Regions from separate parts of the Homo sapiens genome. Here region 1 is linked to region 2. The links come from fine-mapping of genetic effects on gene expression. A gene starts in region 2. The other region holds a variant in brackets. All regions are shown on one strand. Distances are from middle to middle.

Region 1 (8,336 bases), 22 kb after region 2:
CCTGGCTGATGTGTAAAGATTTTGTAGAGACCAGGGCTTTCTGTGTTGCCCAGGATGGTTTCCAACTCCTGGCCTCAAGTGATCCTCCTGGCTTGGCCTCCCAAAGTGTTGGGATTGCAGACCTGAGCCACCCACCCAGCCTGATTCTATTACTGTAAATATCTAGACAAAGGGATGGTAGGGAGATATGTTTTAAAAACAGTCAATGTAACATATGCTAAAGTTTTTTTTTTAAGTATTTTTCTTATGAAACTTTAATAGTATACTTTTGGTTTATGATACCATGTTGAATCTTTTAAAAAGCAGACTATTAAGTTTATATTTTTTTAGCTAACATTTATTTAATTTGCCATGTGCCGGGCACTGCACCAAGTGGTAACTCATTTTCTCTTCACACCTCCCTATGACATAGATACTGTTAATATCCTGGTATTATAGATGAGAAAACAGGACAAAGGTGTTTAAGAACCTTGCCCAGGTTCACACAGTAAGTTCTGGATCTAGTATTTTTTTTTTGAGACGGAGTCTCGCTCTGTCACCCAGGCTGGAGTGCAGTGGCGCGATCGAGGCTCACTGCAAGCTCCGCCTTCCGGGTTCACGCCATTCTCCTGCCTCAGCCTCCCGAGTAGCTGGGACTACAGGCGCTCGCCACCATGCCCAGCTAATTTTTCTTTGTATTTTAGGTAGAGATGGGGTTTCACCGTGTTAGCCAGGATGTTCTCGAACTCCTGACCTTGTGATCCGCCCGCCTCAGCCTCCCAAAGTGTTGGGATTACAGGCGTGAGCCACCGTGCCCGGCTGGACCTAGTATTTAAACCTGGAATCTAGGCATATTATACTGTCTTCCCCCAATTCACATGAATATAATTTTATTAAAAAGTATTTGAAGATAAGGACTTCAAGGGAATAAAAATATGAAAATGGTTAGGGTAGTTGTGGGATTGTGGCTTTTTATTTTTATTTAAAAAATTCTTTAATGTATCTTTTTGTAATAACGTGTGTGTTGCTGTACAGTTTATAGTTTATTTTTACAAATATTTATCTCAGTGGATTTTTGCAACAACTCTAGGAAATAGGTATTATCCTCTTGTAGATCAGGGAAAAAGCCTGTAAGTACCATTGCTAGTGCAGAATTAGAGTTTAGTTTTGTGAGTTATAGTGTACTGCTCCTAGTTTACTATCAGAGTCTTGGGGTCAAGGATTTTTTTTTTTTAATGGCAATGCACTTTTTGGCATCTGATACATTGTAGCTGAACTGAATTAGGATCTCCTGTCACTTGGGGAGCTTCTTATGAACTCAGGTGGGTATGGTAGGCCTCTCAGCAAGTGGGAAATCTAATTTGGGAAATTCTGAAAGAATTGAAAATTTCTAACTTACAGAATTAATAGTATAGCATTTCATTCGTCTGTCCCTAAAGCTTAACATTTTTTTGTGTGGTTTTATTAAACAAGCATCAAGAGTCAGTTGTAGTTGTAGAATATTAATTAACATTGTGGTAAATGTGTCATTTTGTGCAATTCTATGCAGTACTTGAAGTTGTTTTTAAGTAAAATAGACACTAATGTCTCCCTATCTGTCTTCACAAGCTACAATATGAGACTAGAGAGTCTTGTGTAGGGTAAGATTTGAGAGAGTAATACAGACATGCCTGAGAGATGCTGTGGGTTTGATTCCAGACCACCACATTAATATATATGATAGTAAAATGAGAGTGAATTTTTTGGTTTCCCAGTGCACAGACAAGTTATGTTTATATTATACTGTAGTATATTAATTGTTCAGTAGCATTATGTCTCAAATAACAATGTACGGCCAGGTGTGGTGGCTCAACGCCTGTAGGCCCAGCACTTTGTGAGGCTGAGGCAGGAGGATTGCTTGAGGCCAGGAGTTTGAGACAACCTAGGCAGTCTCAAGCTGCCTAGTGAGTTTGAGACGTAGTGAGACCCTGTCTCTACAAAAGAAAATGTTTTAAGTAGCTGGTTATGATGGTGCATATCTGTGGTCCCAGATACTTGGGAGGCTGAGGTGGAAGGATTGCTTGAGCCTGGGAGGTTGAGGCTGCAGTGAGCCATGATTGTGCCACTGGACTCCATCTAGCCTGGACAATAGAATGATACCTTGTCTCAAAAAAAAGAAAACAAAAATACTTTATTGCTGAAAAGTGCTGACAATCATCTGAGTTTTCAGTGAGTCATAATCTTTTTACTGGTGAAAGGTCTTGCCTTGATATTGATGGCTGCTGACTGATCAGGGTGGTGGTTACTGAAGATTGGGGTGGATGTGGAAATTTCTTAAGACAACAATGAAGTTTGCTGCATCGATCAACTCTTTCTTTCACGAGAGGTTTCTCTGTAGCATGTAATGCTGTTTGGTAGCAAATTACCCACAGTAGAACATAATTTGAGTCAGTCCTCACAAACCCTGCCACTGCTTTATCAACTAAATTTATATACTGTTCTAAATCCTTTGTTGTCATTTCAGCAATGTTCACAGCATCTTCACCGAGAATACATTCTATCTCAATAAACCATTTTCTTTGCTCATCCCTGAGAAGGAACTCCTCATTAATTCAGGTTTTATCATGAGATTGCAGCAGTTCAGTCACATCTTCAGGCTCCACTTCTAATTCTAGTTCTTTTGCCATTTGCACATCTGCAATGACCTCCTCCACTGTAATCTTGAAGCCCTCAAAGTTATCTACGAGGATTGGAAACAATGTCTTCAAAACTGTTAATGTTCATATTTTAACCTCCTATGAATCACAGATGTTCTCAATGGCATCTAGAATGGTGAATCCTTTTCAGAAGGTTTTCAGACTACTTTGCTCACTTCCATCCAGGGAATCACTGTGGCAGCTATAACTGTACAAAATGTATTTCTTAAGTAATAGACTAGAAAGTCAAAATGACTCCTTGTTCCATGGGCTGTAGAATGGATGTTGTGTCAGCAGCATGAAAACAACATTCATCTCCTTGTACATCTCCATCAGACCTCTTGGGTGACCATTGTCAGTGAGCAGTAATATTTTGAAAGTGATCTTTTTTTTTGAGCAGCTGGTTTCAACACTGAGCTCAAAACATTCAGTAAACCATGCTGTTAACAGATGTACTGTCATCCAGGCTTTGTTGTTTCATTTATAGAGTACAGACAGAGTAGATTTAGCATAATTCTTAAGGACCCTTGGATTTTCAGAATGGTCATTGAGCATTGGCTTTGACTTAAAGTCACCAGCTGCATTAGCCCCTAACAAAAGAGTCAGCTTTTCCCTTGAAGCTTTGAAGCCAGGCATTGACTTTTCCTTTCTAGCTCTGAAAGTCTCAGATGGCATCTTCTTCCAATAGAAGGCTTTTTCATCTATGTTGAAAATCTGTTGTTTAGTGTAGCCAGTTCTATCATTTACCTTAGCTAGATCTTCTGGATATCCTGCTGTAGATTCACTGTCACCACTTGCTGCTTCACCTTGCACTTTTATGTTATGAAGATAACGTCTTTTTGTAAACCTCACAAACCAACAACCTTTGCTAGCTTCAGACTTTCCTTCTGCAGCTTCCTCACTTCTCTCAGTCTTCCTTGAATTGAAGAGAGTTACGACCTTGTTCTGGATTAGGCTTTGGCTTAAAGGAATGTCTGGCTGGTTTGATCTTCTGTCTAGACCACTCAGACTTTCTACTTACCAGCCATAAGGGTGTTTCACTTTATCATTTGTGTGTTCCCTGGAGTAGCACTTATTTTTCTTCAAAACTTTCCTTTTACATTCACAACATAGCTAAATGTTTAGTGCAAGAGGTCTAGCTTTTGGCATATCTTGGCTTTTGAAATACCTTCCTCATTAAGCGTAATCATTTCTAGCTTTTGATTTAAAGTGAGAGATATGCAACTCTTCCTTTCACTTGAACGCTTAGAGGCCGTTGTGGCCTAATTTCAATATAGTTGTGTCTCAGGGTATAGGGATGCCCAAGGAGAAGGGAGAGAAATGGGAGAATGACCAGTCAGTGGAGTAGTCAGAACACACACAGTATTTATTAAGTTGCTTTCTTATGTGGGTACAGTTTGGGGTGCCCCCAAACAAATAGAATATTAGCATCAAAGATTACTGATCAGAGATCACCATAATGGATATAATAATAATAATGAAAAAGTTTGAAATATTGGGAGAATTACCAAAATGTGACACAGAACTGTGAAGTGAGCACATGGTTTTAAAAAATGATGCCGATAGACTTGCTTCAACTTGTTAAACCTTCAATTGGTTTTAAAAAAGATAATATCTGGAAAGCACAATAAAATGAGGCACAATAAAATGAAGTATGCCTGTATTGACTTTGTTTTAAACTGATATGTGAGGATCCAGGGATTTTGCAAAGTAACTACTATTTTTGAAAACATGGATACGATTAATACAAATGATGTGATTACTTGGTTGGAGACATTTTGGAGTTGGGAATGTTTATTATTATAATAGATAACATTTATTGAACACTTATTATTTGCCAGGTACTATGCTCAGCCTGCTTTATTTTAATCCCCCAAACTACCCTATAAGAATACCATCATCATCATTTTATAATGAGGAAACTAAGATTTAGAAAGGTTAAGTAATTTGTACAAGGTGACCCAAGTACAAAGTGGTGGGGCTAGAATTTGACCCAGGTCTTCTGCTTCCAGAGACCAAACTTTTACCAGCTATGTAGAATACTGCTCTTTATTCATTAATTTAATGAATAATAATTGATCACGTATCTTGTGCTAGACTCTATGCACTGGACATATATCAATGATGAGAACAGAGAAAAATTATTTCCCCTTTAGAGTGAGGGAAAGGAGACAAATAAGAGTATGCTAGCTAATAGCACAAGGAGAAAAATAAAGCAAATAAAGGGAGATGGCTTTTGCTTGAGTAGGGTGTTAAATCGTTAGACAAACTGGACTGGAAAAGTCTTAGCAAGAGTTGAATACAGACTTAAAGGAGAGAAAGGAGCAAACCAGGTGGATATTTGGGATAAGAATGAACAAACAGCAAGAGAGTATGCTTGGTATGTTCAAAGAACATTTAGGAGCCCATTGTGGCTAGCATTAGTGACCAGACCAGAGGAAAGCAGTGGAGATGAATAGATCAGAGAGGTACAATCTGGGAGCAGATCTTGTAGGGCCTCTGGAAG[A/G]TCTTTGCATCTACTGAAGCCATTGGAGGATTTTGAGCAATGAAGTGTTATCTGGATTTGTCTGGATGCTTTGTTGTGTATAGATGTTGCATGCTCAAGGGTAGAACCAAAGAGTCTTGATAGAAGGCTGAGAAAATACAGTTAGTTCTTGCTTTATGACTGGGATACATTCTAAGAAATGGGTTGTAAGGTGATTTCTTCATTGTTTGAACAACGTAGAGTGTACTTACACAAACCTAGCTGGTAGAGCCTACTACACACCTAAGCTATATGGTATGGCCTGTTGCTTTAGGCTACAAACCTGTACAGCATGCTACATACTGAATACTGTAGGCAATTGTAACCCCATGGTAAGTATTTGTGTATCTAAACATAGCTAAACATATAAAAGGTACAGTAAAAATATGATATTATAATCTTATGGGAGCACCATTGTATATATGGTCATTGACCTAAATGTCATTTTGCAGTGCATGACTGTAATCCAGTTGAAAAATGATAGTTTGTACGACCAAGGTTCATAGCTCTTGAGATGGTAAAAAGTATTCATATTTTAGATATATTTCTAAAGTTTCAAATATAAAACTTTGAGGACTTTAATTAGCAGAGACCTCAGATATAACCCATTAGGTGCCAAGTTTTATACTTTTTCAATTTTAAACCTAATTTTCTTCTGTTATCAAAGTCTATAATATGTGTTAATAGTACACAATTTAGAAGATCCATGGAGGGAAAATATCAAGCAGTGTAATATCCTAGCATATGCAGATAAAATTATTGAACGCCATGAACAAACATCTTGGCGTATTTTTTTCTAGTCTTTTGGCATAGGATTGAACCTTAATAAATGCTGTCTACCATAAGCTAGCTCTCTGTCTCCCCTACTAAAATCTTAGCTCCTTAAAAACAGGAACTGTGTTCTTTATTTCTCTATCTTAGGTAGAGAGCACGGTGTCTGGTTCATGATAAGTGCTAGTGCTGCTTGTTTTGTTTGAATTAATTGTGCCAAATACTATATGGGATTCAATGATTTATGTTTAGTTAGGGAGGAAACACTCAGTAGGTACACTTGTAAAATAATAAGGCTGAGTTTTCTGTTTTGTTTTTTTAAGAGACAGGGTCTGGCTCTGTTGCCCAGGCTGGAGTGTAATGGTATAATCATAGCTCACCGTAGCCTTGAATTCCTGAGCTCAAGCAGTCCTTCTGCCTCACTCTCCTGAGTAGCTAGGACTCAGACTCATACCACCACACCCAGCTGATTTTTTGTAGAGGCAGGATCTCGCTATGTTGCCCAGGCCAGTAAGCAGTCCTCCTGCCTTGGCTTTCCAAAATGCTGGCATTACAGGCGTGAGCCACTGTACCAGGCCAAGGCTGATTTTTCTTAAGCAAACATAACAGAAATTAAGCTAAAACAACCACTACAGTTATCTTGAGAGGAAGTCATCGGGGATACTGTTGTTCTGTAAAGACATCATGTAGTTTACTCTTAAGAGTCAGTTTGAGTCATGCTATAAAGTTTTATTAAATTTGTTCATTAAAAGTTTTTTTCCAGCTGGGCGTGGTGGCTCATGCCTGTAATCCCAGCACTTTGGGAGGCTGAGGCGGGCGGATCACCTGAGGTCGGGAGTTCAAGACAACCAGCCTGACCAACATGGAGAAACCCTGTCTCTACTAAAAATACAAAATTAGCTGGGTGTGGTGGCGCATGCCTGTAACCCCAGCTACTCGGGAGGCTGAGGCAGGAGAATCATTTGAACCCAGAGGCAGAGGTTGCAGGAGAATCACTTGAACCCAGAGGCAGAGGTTGCAGTGAGCTAAGATTGTGCCAGTGCACTCCAGCCTGGGCAACAAGAGCGAAACTCCATCTCAAAAAAAAAAAAAAGTGTTTCCCCCCTCATGATGGTCTGTAGCGTAGTGATTTAGGAGTTGGCTCTGGAGGCACACTATCTGGGTTCAGATTTCACCTTCTCCATTCAGTCAGTTTTGTGACCTTGGGCAAGTTACTCTGCACAGTTTCACCTGTAAAAAGTAGATAATAAAGTGTGTACCTTATAGAGTTGTTTTGAGTGGTAAATACATTAGTATATGTAGTGTCTGGTATATAGTTTAATCTATAAATGCAAATTTTTATTATTTTCTGCTGATCCTGTAATTGATCTAAAACATAATCCAGGTTTCTTTTTTCTTTTTTTGAGACAAGGTCTCGCTCTGTCGCCCAGGCTGGAGTGCAATAGTGCGATTGCGTCTCACTGCAACCTTTGGTCAAGCGATCCTCCCACCTCAGCCTCCCGAATAGCTGGGACTACAGGCACGTGCCACCATGCCTGGCTAATTTTTGTATTTTTTGTAGAGACGAGGTCTCCCTGTGTTGCTCAGGCTGGTCTCGAACTCCTGGACTCAAGCGATCTGCCCTCCTTGGCCTTCCAAAGTGCTGGAATTATAGGCATGAGCCCCCATAACAACAACTTGCTTACCCACCTTATTTGCCAAATTTAGCTCTTAGTGACTTTTGCCATTTTCAACATGATGAAGTACTAAGATTTGTGATGCTTCTGGCTATATCTGATGTCATTTCTAAAGCAACTACTAAAAAGTTATTTTTAACTAATAGTATCATTGAAATACATTTATGATTTCAACAAGGTGATTACTTGGAAAATAATGTTCATTGGAATGAATACATTCTGGTTTAGTTGTTTCAAAAAACAAACTGTTGAATCTTATAGAAGCATTTCATTCACTTGAATGCATAAGTAATAGTATCAGGCAAAAAAATAATAAAAAAAGAGGGCTGAGTGATGCAGGTAAGTGCTTACATTTCTTCAGTGGCTCTCTATTGCTAAAGAAGAAAGTCCAAATATATTAGTAGGTCGTAAAAGGCCCTTCATTACTTTTCCATTCTTAATCTCCTTGCCATACCCTTGCACATCTTTTGAAGACAGATACTATGTCTTTTTTTCTGTTTTAAAGCTTGGTTAATGAACAGTCAGTACACGTTGGTAGAATTAGTTAGTAGAATTAGATCCAGCCATGCTGATCCATTTATAGTTCTCCAAGCATGCCAAGTTTTTCTCACCTTTCTGCCTTTGCATGTGCCATTTTCCCTGTCTGGAATTCCTTTCCTTTTTTCATTGCCTGACATACTCCTACCTATCTTTGAAATTGAACACAAATGT
Region 2 (8,336 bases):
GGATTAAACAACCCAAACAACTAATGAAATCAACTCCCCGTCAAAAGCACATCTGGGAATGCTTCTCCAAAAAATATTATTGTAATTGACTAAAATTTAATTTTTTAGTTGTCTTATTAAAAAGTCTTTAATTGAAAATTATCACTTAAAAATCAAACTGGATTTAATGTACAAAGCATAATCTCCAATATCTACTGAAAATAAATTTTTAAAAAAATCCCACATTTCTGATTTCTCTTTAAGAGAAAAAAAAATTAAAAAATTCCCCAAAGCTTATCAGATTTTTTGGGCCAAATCATCCAGAAATCTATCTATAAAAGATTCAGAGTATATTCAGGGCATTAAAATTACCCTACTCTGAAGTAGAATAAACTATTTCCTTATCTTTTAAAAGCTTAGTTATCAACACTGCTTAGAATTACCATCAGAGTGTCTGTATTAAGATTACCCTAATCTGCAGTAGAATAAACTATTTCCTCGCCTTTTAAGAGCTTAGTTATCAGTACTCCTTAGAATCACCCTAAGAATGGAAGGGCTTCATCTAGGATTTGATATTGTAATCAAATTTTCAAATAAGACAAATTAGTCCACATAAAAAAGTATAGCAGTAGGTACAGGCAACAGAAGCCATGAACGCATTCTCGAAGCTCGCCAAGGAATTTTTCTCTAAAATCATCTTTAAGGAAATATCAATTTAACTTCAATAGCCTTGTTTAACGAATCAAACTATTTTTTTAAATCTTAGAGTGACCTAAAATCCCAAAATTTCTCCACTGAGTTGGCATACCAATTCCTCAATTTATTTCAGCTGTTGTAATCATACACCTGATAATGCTTGATTTGAAACTGGGTACAGTTTTTTAAGGTTTAGTTGAATGAGGGAATTTTTAATTTATCACAATTTCCTGACTAATATGAAAACTGATGGTAAGAATGAAAAATTCAAATAAAATAACATAAACCTCTAATTACGGCGTGCAGCGTTTGCAGTTACAAAAGCAACACTACATTTTTCCCATCATAAGCGCTTTGTCATCAAAACAGTAAACTATACAAATTGGATTGCAACAATTTCCACTGTTATTGGTAATTTTTTAATAGGAACACTTTCCATTAATGCTTGAAAACTACGAACTACATTTTATTTTATATCTTGTCAAATTAGTTGGAGAATATCTATTGTAAAGCTGTCAGCACATCTCTAACATTACTTTGTCAGGATCCACCTGCTCTATGCTGCCCACTATAGGAAATGCAATATGGTAATAAGAAATGTAATAGAAGGTTACTTTAGTACAATCTCATAAAAAACATACTCTGACTCTACTTGGATGCTAAATGTGGTGTTTTTGCAAGAGATACAGACTGATTAGTGGCAATCAAATTTATTAACTGTAAAGGACATCAATAAGAACAGACAGGACCAGAAATTGTATCTTGGTGATCCACATGCCAGGAGTAGCGCGGCAGAGGATGGAGAGTGGAACTTAGCGATTGAGGCGCAGCCTGCAGAAAGCTGCACTTCTGCACTAGAGATTAAATAAGAGGGTCAAAATCAACATAAACTAAACCCTTTTTCAAAGTCATGTAAACACAAATGATTGCTGCAACTGGAAAACAACATTGAAAATAAATGATTCGTGTGATGCATATCGATTTCAACAAACCTTTCCTTAAACCTTTAACGTTACTCTTACAAGCAAATACCGTTAATAGCTTACTTCTGTCTTAATTTTTCTAACCACAGGAAAATTGAAACATAAGTAATCTGATAAACATCAAGTTTTACGTTGATGCTTTTGACCACAGGGTATATACAGTGTTAAGAATTTAAATTCTATCCATCAGATATACTTTAGGACTCCATTTTGAAGATAGCCTCTTCTACAGAAAAGAAATTTTTAAAAGTCAATTCTCCAGTTTCTCATCACATCTTAATTTTTTTAAAAAGGCTTTTAAACACTAGTATCACTCCAAGTCTTTAGCCTTTGATACTTGCTCTGAAAACACACTATCGTATGTTTGTGTATGTACACACACACACACAACAGTGACTTAAAAGTGGCAACCGCCTCTTGAAAAGTAAAAATATGTCATCCCTCCATTCTGCCCTTAAATGAGAAATAAAGACAATAGATTTGCCCACTGCAGACTGGGATACCAGAAAAGACGTTCTAAGTCTCGCCTGAGACAATATTAACCTGCTATCTTAAGTCCCAACTTGGATGACTTAAATTTCAGTGTACGTGCCTCCGTTCCCACTCTTGCCCCATCAGCTCCATCAGCATCGTCATCCCCGGCTCGGATCCCGGCCGCGACCCGCCAGGGCCGCCGGAGTCCGCGAATACCGCCCGCTCCCAGCAACGAAGCTCCCCGGCTCCCGGCCGACCGCGAGTTCCTGGAGCAGCAGCCTCCAAGGTTCCCAAAGCCCACGATTCAGGCGAGCGGTGCCGACCGGGCCGTGGACTGTGGCATTTTAAAACTACAGAAGTCTCACTGCACGACTGGCGCGGCCGAGGTGGCCCAGGAGACCCTCCAAGAGATTCTGGTCAGCTGCCGGGAGCGTGGAAGAGCAACCAAAGCCACCAAGGCGCCGCGCCAAGTCCCCGGAGCAGTCACCTCAGCTTTCCGTTCTCCCTCTAGTTACAATTACTCCACAGGCTTCTGGCGCTTCCTTCGAGAAAATGAAAAACTAAAAACGCGTAGAGGTGGTAGAAGTCGTTGGCATTTTCCGTTTAATGTGATCCCCCAGGCTCCATCCCTTAAGTGGGGTTTCCAAACTCGGATGCATCCTCAGCAGAGGTTTTCCATGTTGACAGATCTCTCGCCTCCCACAAAATGGGGCCGGGGAGGCGGCCGCGGTCTCCTCTATGGGCGCCGCCATTTTGTGAGGCGGCGGCGGCGCGGCGGCAGGAGCCCGGGGTGTGTATAATGGTTGAATAGAATGACCCCCTCCAGGGAATCCCCGGCACTGACGGTTACGTAAGGGGCTGTGCGCAAGTGCGGCGTTTAGGGAATCCGCACAGCCCGGGCCACGCAGCTCCGAGGCCCACATCTCCACTTCCCCTAAGAGGACCGATGGGGGAAGGGACAGCTGACCGGGTCTTCCTCGCAGCAGCCTCACCCCTAGTCTTCCGCGGCCGGCGAGCTTCTCCACCTCCCCGGGCCGGGTCTCCGCCCCTCACAGGCTTCCGAGACACTCACTGGCCCTGGGTTGTCAGGATCTTCCTAGCCACAACCTTATTCCGACCCCACTTAAGAGACAAACTTTAGTTGGGAAATAAGTCCGTTTCCTAGAGTGAGCACCGGAAGCAAGCTGCACTATATTACATAATTTTTCACCTCCAAAGCAATGTTCCCATTGGAACGACTACCTGAAATAACCCATCCAGACCCCTACTACCCTGTGACCTTGGGTTAGGCAGTGACTTTGCCCGTGGTGGCCGTCACTAAAATGGGAATAATAATACGTTTCACGTACTGTAATCTTAATTAACATTTGTAGCAAAGAGCCGGCTCCAACACCCCTCGTAAATGCAAATTTAGGTGGTAGTATTTGTTGAGATGTTTTGACTCATTTAAGCAAAGGGTTTTTTTAACCTTCAAAATATTTTAAACGAGGATTACATTTAAGACATTTGAAAGCAAGGAAAAACGTTTTATTCGGTATTTATTTTAAACGCAGCAATCTTGAAGAGACCTTACTATAAAAATGTAAACCTTAATTATTATTGTCGAAGTTCGATAGATTGCTTCCCAACCAGTTTAGTTAGTTTGCATAACTTTGCTCATAGAATACTCCAGTTTGATATGTGAAGCCAACCAGCGGCAAGATGAATTAAGAGCATTACTCTATTTCCACAGAACTAGGACAGACAGTTCACATTGTATTTAACGTATAGTTTGCTAAAGTTAGCGTGTGGATAATTCATAGAAAATGTGCTAACCAGGCCCCAAAATACTAGCATACGGCTCATAAAAGCCGATTCCTTTAGATTTTACAAAAACAGAAGGTAACAAATTGACTTTATTCCGATCTGTGAATGTTGCGTAGCGTGAGGGGCTACCCCGGTGAGCTTCCTTTCCCTTCAGAGCGCCACACCGGTTCTGTCGGGCGGGCGGGGACTCCGAGGCGGCCCTTCCAACAGCCGGGCCGGGGACGCGAACATCGCCTCCACCCCTAACCCTGGAACAACCGGTAGTGGCCGTTTCCCCGCACCGCCCCCCTTTCCGCCGGCTTTGTGTGCGTGTGAAATGTGCGGCACATTGCAGACGAACCCTAAGCCCGGCGAGTCGAGTCTATTGTTCCCCGCGAGGATCTGCCGGGGCGGTGTGGAGCCAGGCGCAGTGCCGCGGCCAGCCCTCGGGGGTCGCTGTGTGGCACTGGCTGCCAGGCCGTGGCGGCGGCAGAGAGGGAGGCTGGCGGGGAGGGAAGCAGGCGGGCGGCGCGCAGCGGCTCAGCTGCCGCCGGTGCTTCTGCCCGGGGACGCCCCGGCCTCAGCGGCCGAGGCCGCGCGTGAATGTGTGCGAGGGCCCCGCGGAGCCGGGGCCGAAATACACGCTGTCACCGCGCTTTCCACAAACCACCACACAGACCTCCCCCTCCCCACCCCCAGCCCCGCCTGCCCTAGCCCCGCCGCCGCCGCCGCCGAAACTCTTGGGCCTCTGGCCGCCCAGACCCCTCACCATCGGCTCGCCTTGCCCGTCGCCCGCTCGCGCGCCCCCGGCAGCAGCACCATGTTGAATCGCGTCCCCGGGCTGAGCTGCCTCAGCCGGCGGCGCTGAGAGGCGGGCGAGAGCCGGGCCACGGGGAGGGAGGGAAGGAAGGGGTGGGGGCCGCGCTCGCCCCGCGGCTTCGCGCGGATCCGGCAGTCGCCTGCCCTTCTAGTTTCGCTCCGATTTCTTTAAACTTTTTTAGAAATTCCCCTCCCTCCTTCCCTCCTCTCCCCCTGGCCTCCTGCTCCCTCCTTCCCCTCCTCCTCCTCCTCCCCCTCCCTCCCTCCCTCCCTGCGCCGCCGCCGCCGCCGCCGCCGCCGCCGCCGCCGCCACCGCCGGCCCATGACTGAGCCCCGCCGCCGCCGGCCGAGGAATGGGCTCCGGGCTCTGGTAGGAAGCGCTGGGAGCGGGGGGCGCTTTTAAAACACCGATCTGGGTTTTTTAAAAACCTCCTTTGAAAAAATAATGGCAAACTCGACGGGGAAGGCGCCTCCGGACGAGCGGAGAAAGGGACTCGCTTTCCTGGACGAGCTGCGGCAGTTCCACCACAGCAGAGGGTGAGAGCAGAACCGGGGGGGCAGCGCCGGGGCGAGCCGGGGCGAACGGGGCTCTCCCGCCCGGGCCGGGCACGGGGTCCCGGCTGACAAGTGCGGGGCTTTTTCTCTCCCGCAGGTCGCCTTTTAAAAAAATCCCTGCGGTGGGTGGGAAGGAGCTGGATCTTCACGGTCTCTACACCAGAGTCACTACTTTAGGCGGATTCGCGAAGGTGAGTGGAAGTTTTAATTTGTATTTCCCTCTCGCTGGCCTCCTCCAAAAAGTCTCCTTTGACCCCGGAGTGGGCGCTTGGGGCTGGGGGGGTGGCCCGCGGGGGCAAAAGGCGTTCTTTTCGCTCCCAGCCGGTGGCACGGAGGCGGACGGCGGCGGGGCTGTTTTTGGCCTGGTGGCTCGCGTGCGCGCGGCGGGCGCGGGGCTCCGGCGGGCGGGCGGCCCGGCGCCGGCTCGCGCCCTGCCCGGTGCCCGGTCGGGCCGGCGGGGTCTGAGCGCCGCGGCGGGGAATGCGGGCGTGCGGGGCGCCAGCCTGAGCCCCGCGCCCGCCCCGCTCCCGCGCCGCCCGCCCGCTCGCTCGCGAGTCAGCTCTGCCGCCGCTGCCGCTCTAGCACAGGCGGAGACACACAGAGACACACAGACTCTGAGAGCAGTTTTCGTGCAACTCAAAATTAGCGCGGGCAGGTTTAACATCGATAATCGGCTGCGAAATAATCCCGGCAGCCGGGGGCACAGCCTCGGCCCCGTCGCCCTCGGTTTATACAGCTAACAAAAGAAACCAGGACCTGTCTCCAAATAGCCATCTTAGGCTTCAAGGCTAGGCAGAAGCTGTAGGCCTCAAAGAAGGGCCTATGGAGATGGATAGATCTGGGAGAGGGATCGGAATCGGCCCCAGCCCCGGCCCCCCCCCCAACCCGCGGACGTCGCTGTCCGGAACTGTATTGATCCTTTTGAACTTTTTTTTTTTTTTTTTTTTTTAGTGTAAACGGACCGCGTTGAGATTTAAAAGGGGGCGACAGAGGGACTTGCGATTGGTTATTGTCCGGGCTTCAAAAACAAAACAAACCCACCAAACCCCCCCACCCCCAAACAAAACAAGTGGTATTAAATACAGGGCTCTCTGGTGAAAACACAGTGATTCAAGAAGCCCTTGCTTAGTAACTCTTACCGATCGATCCGAAACACCCACTGATGCCTTAGGTATCTACAGATCTCTGTAGAATGGGTATTTATTTCATAGTTAGGTTAAGATTTTCTTAGATTGTTCACGTTCAGACAACTGTGCCTGTGTTTTACCAGGTTTCTGAGAAGAATCAGTGGGGAGAAATTGTTGAAGAGTTCAACTTTCCCAGAAGTTGTTCTAACGCTGCCTTTGCTTTAAAACAGTATTACTTGCGGTGAGTAGTAGTGACTTTTCCATAGTATTTGGAAATAAGGGACTTATGGAGAGATTTGTTTTTAGCAAAAACAAAAGCAAACCTTGCACACCAAACAGTTCTTAAGCTCTTGTTCATTTCAGACTGAGACACATTTAATATAAATAAAGTGAGATTGTAGGAAGGTGAAAGTCTTCCTCACCAATTTCAGGATCGTTTACATTTTTCATACAAAATCATTACAGGTGACACCCCAGCCCCAATCTTGGTAAACATTCTTTTGTGACATTGTTATTCATCGCTTGATACCCACTGAGGGGCAGAAAGGTGATGCTTAGTAAAAGACTTAAGATAGTTAATGAAACTTTGTAACCTTTGGGAAAATTTTTTTCTTTGTTTTGGAAACTCCTTTAGTTTTAAAAATTCTGGCTTTAAGAATTTTTTTTTTTTAATGAAACTTCTTGTTTGGAACAGTGTCATTGAATAGGTTTTTCAGTAGAATATTCCTACATGGCATAACATGTTGGTGGCTTAGGTGACCAGGATTGTTTTGATAATTACTTTTTGTTGAATTTCCAGTGACTTAAATTAGTAATTTAAATTAGATAATTTAAATTATTATATCTTTAGGAAAATGGGGATACTATGAAATGGGATACTATAATCTGGATTTTCTTTCATTCTCCCTCTTCTTCTTTGACTGCTTATTCGGCAAAGTTTAATTTCTTATTCAGTTGGTATGTGATACAGTCTAGATGATATATTTTGTGATTTAGCGTTTTTTTTTTTGCCTCTAGTTTTTCTTCTAGGAATACTTTCATACTGTAATTTATCATGATGCTGTGTTTTATTTTTAAAGTGCTTATCTTAGAGGATCCTAAGTTAGTTGGTGTTATTAAAAACTAAAATGATATTCTTTGTATTTATTGCTTTTTAATAGTGATAGTACAGGCCTTTTTTTGTAAGGTGGCTTCTGCATAATTTGAGTTTTGCATTTATTATTGCTTCAGATGCACTCAGTTATTGTGTATTACGTTCAGCATTCTGAAATAGGAAATGCAGTAATCGCACAGGTGTACTTTCTATTGGCTATCTTAGATTGACTTCAGGCTTGAAGCTGGAGTTCGCAGAACTTTGTGGAGTAGTTATTGAGTTACACAGGAAGTCTAGAAAATATTAAATATGGTTGTCATCTATTGTGTGTGTGTGATGGCATTTGTGTCAGAGTACATTTTAAATTAAAGGGCTAAATCAAAAAGCAAAATTAACCTCCAAAACCGTTGAGTTAGTAGTGGGGTGAGAAACAAGAGAGTTTTATATTCATCGTGACATTCATTTGCTCATTTCTATTTATGATATTGAGAGGAACATGTTAATACATATTCTGGTTTTATGTTTTTATCAGTTTAAAGCATTTGAATTTTGGACTGTTTGAAATACATATTTTTGAAGTTTTGCTTCATATTTGTTAGATTGATTGACTTAAGTTTTATAACCAGAAAGTACTATAGAATATACATGATTCATGAGATGTATATTTTTCTGAAGAGTTTACATTCATACTAATAGTTTTAGCATAATCAAATTAATATCTAGGCTTCCAATTTTTTTTAACAAAAGTTAATTATAAATATTGTTTTTCCAGTTGTCATTTTTATCTTGGGAGGATATCATTAATTATAGGTACTGTTTTTAACT

The links.
Region 1: its variant is fine-mapped to the expression of ARID2 in whole blood (INTERVAL, PIP 0.96).

Annotation. Positions count from the first base shown.
Region 1 is chr12:45,746,269-45,754,604 of GRCh38, forward strand. The region is part of intron 3 of ARID2 (AT-rich interaction domain 2); the gene reads left to right. Among named protein-coding and RNA genes, the nearest start is that of ARID2, 21 kb to the left of the region's middle. The variant A/G (reference allele first, on the strand shown) is at 5,161.
Region 2 is chr12:45,724,656-45,732,991 of GRCh38, forward strand. ARID2 (AT-rich interaction domain 2) reads left to right here and starts at 5,051. Exons shown (of 21, transcript NM_152641.4): 1 at 5,051-5,273; 2 at 5,389-5,482; 3 at 6,562-6,659. The coding sequence starts at 5,182. LINC00938 (long intergenic non-protein coding RNA 938) reads right to left here and starts at 3,266. Exons shown (of 1, transcript NR_028408.1): 1 at 1,065-3,266. RefSeq lists enhancers at 1,894-2,856, 2,562-3,281, 2,857-3,819 and silencers at 4,332-4,751, 5,262-5,501.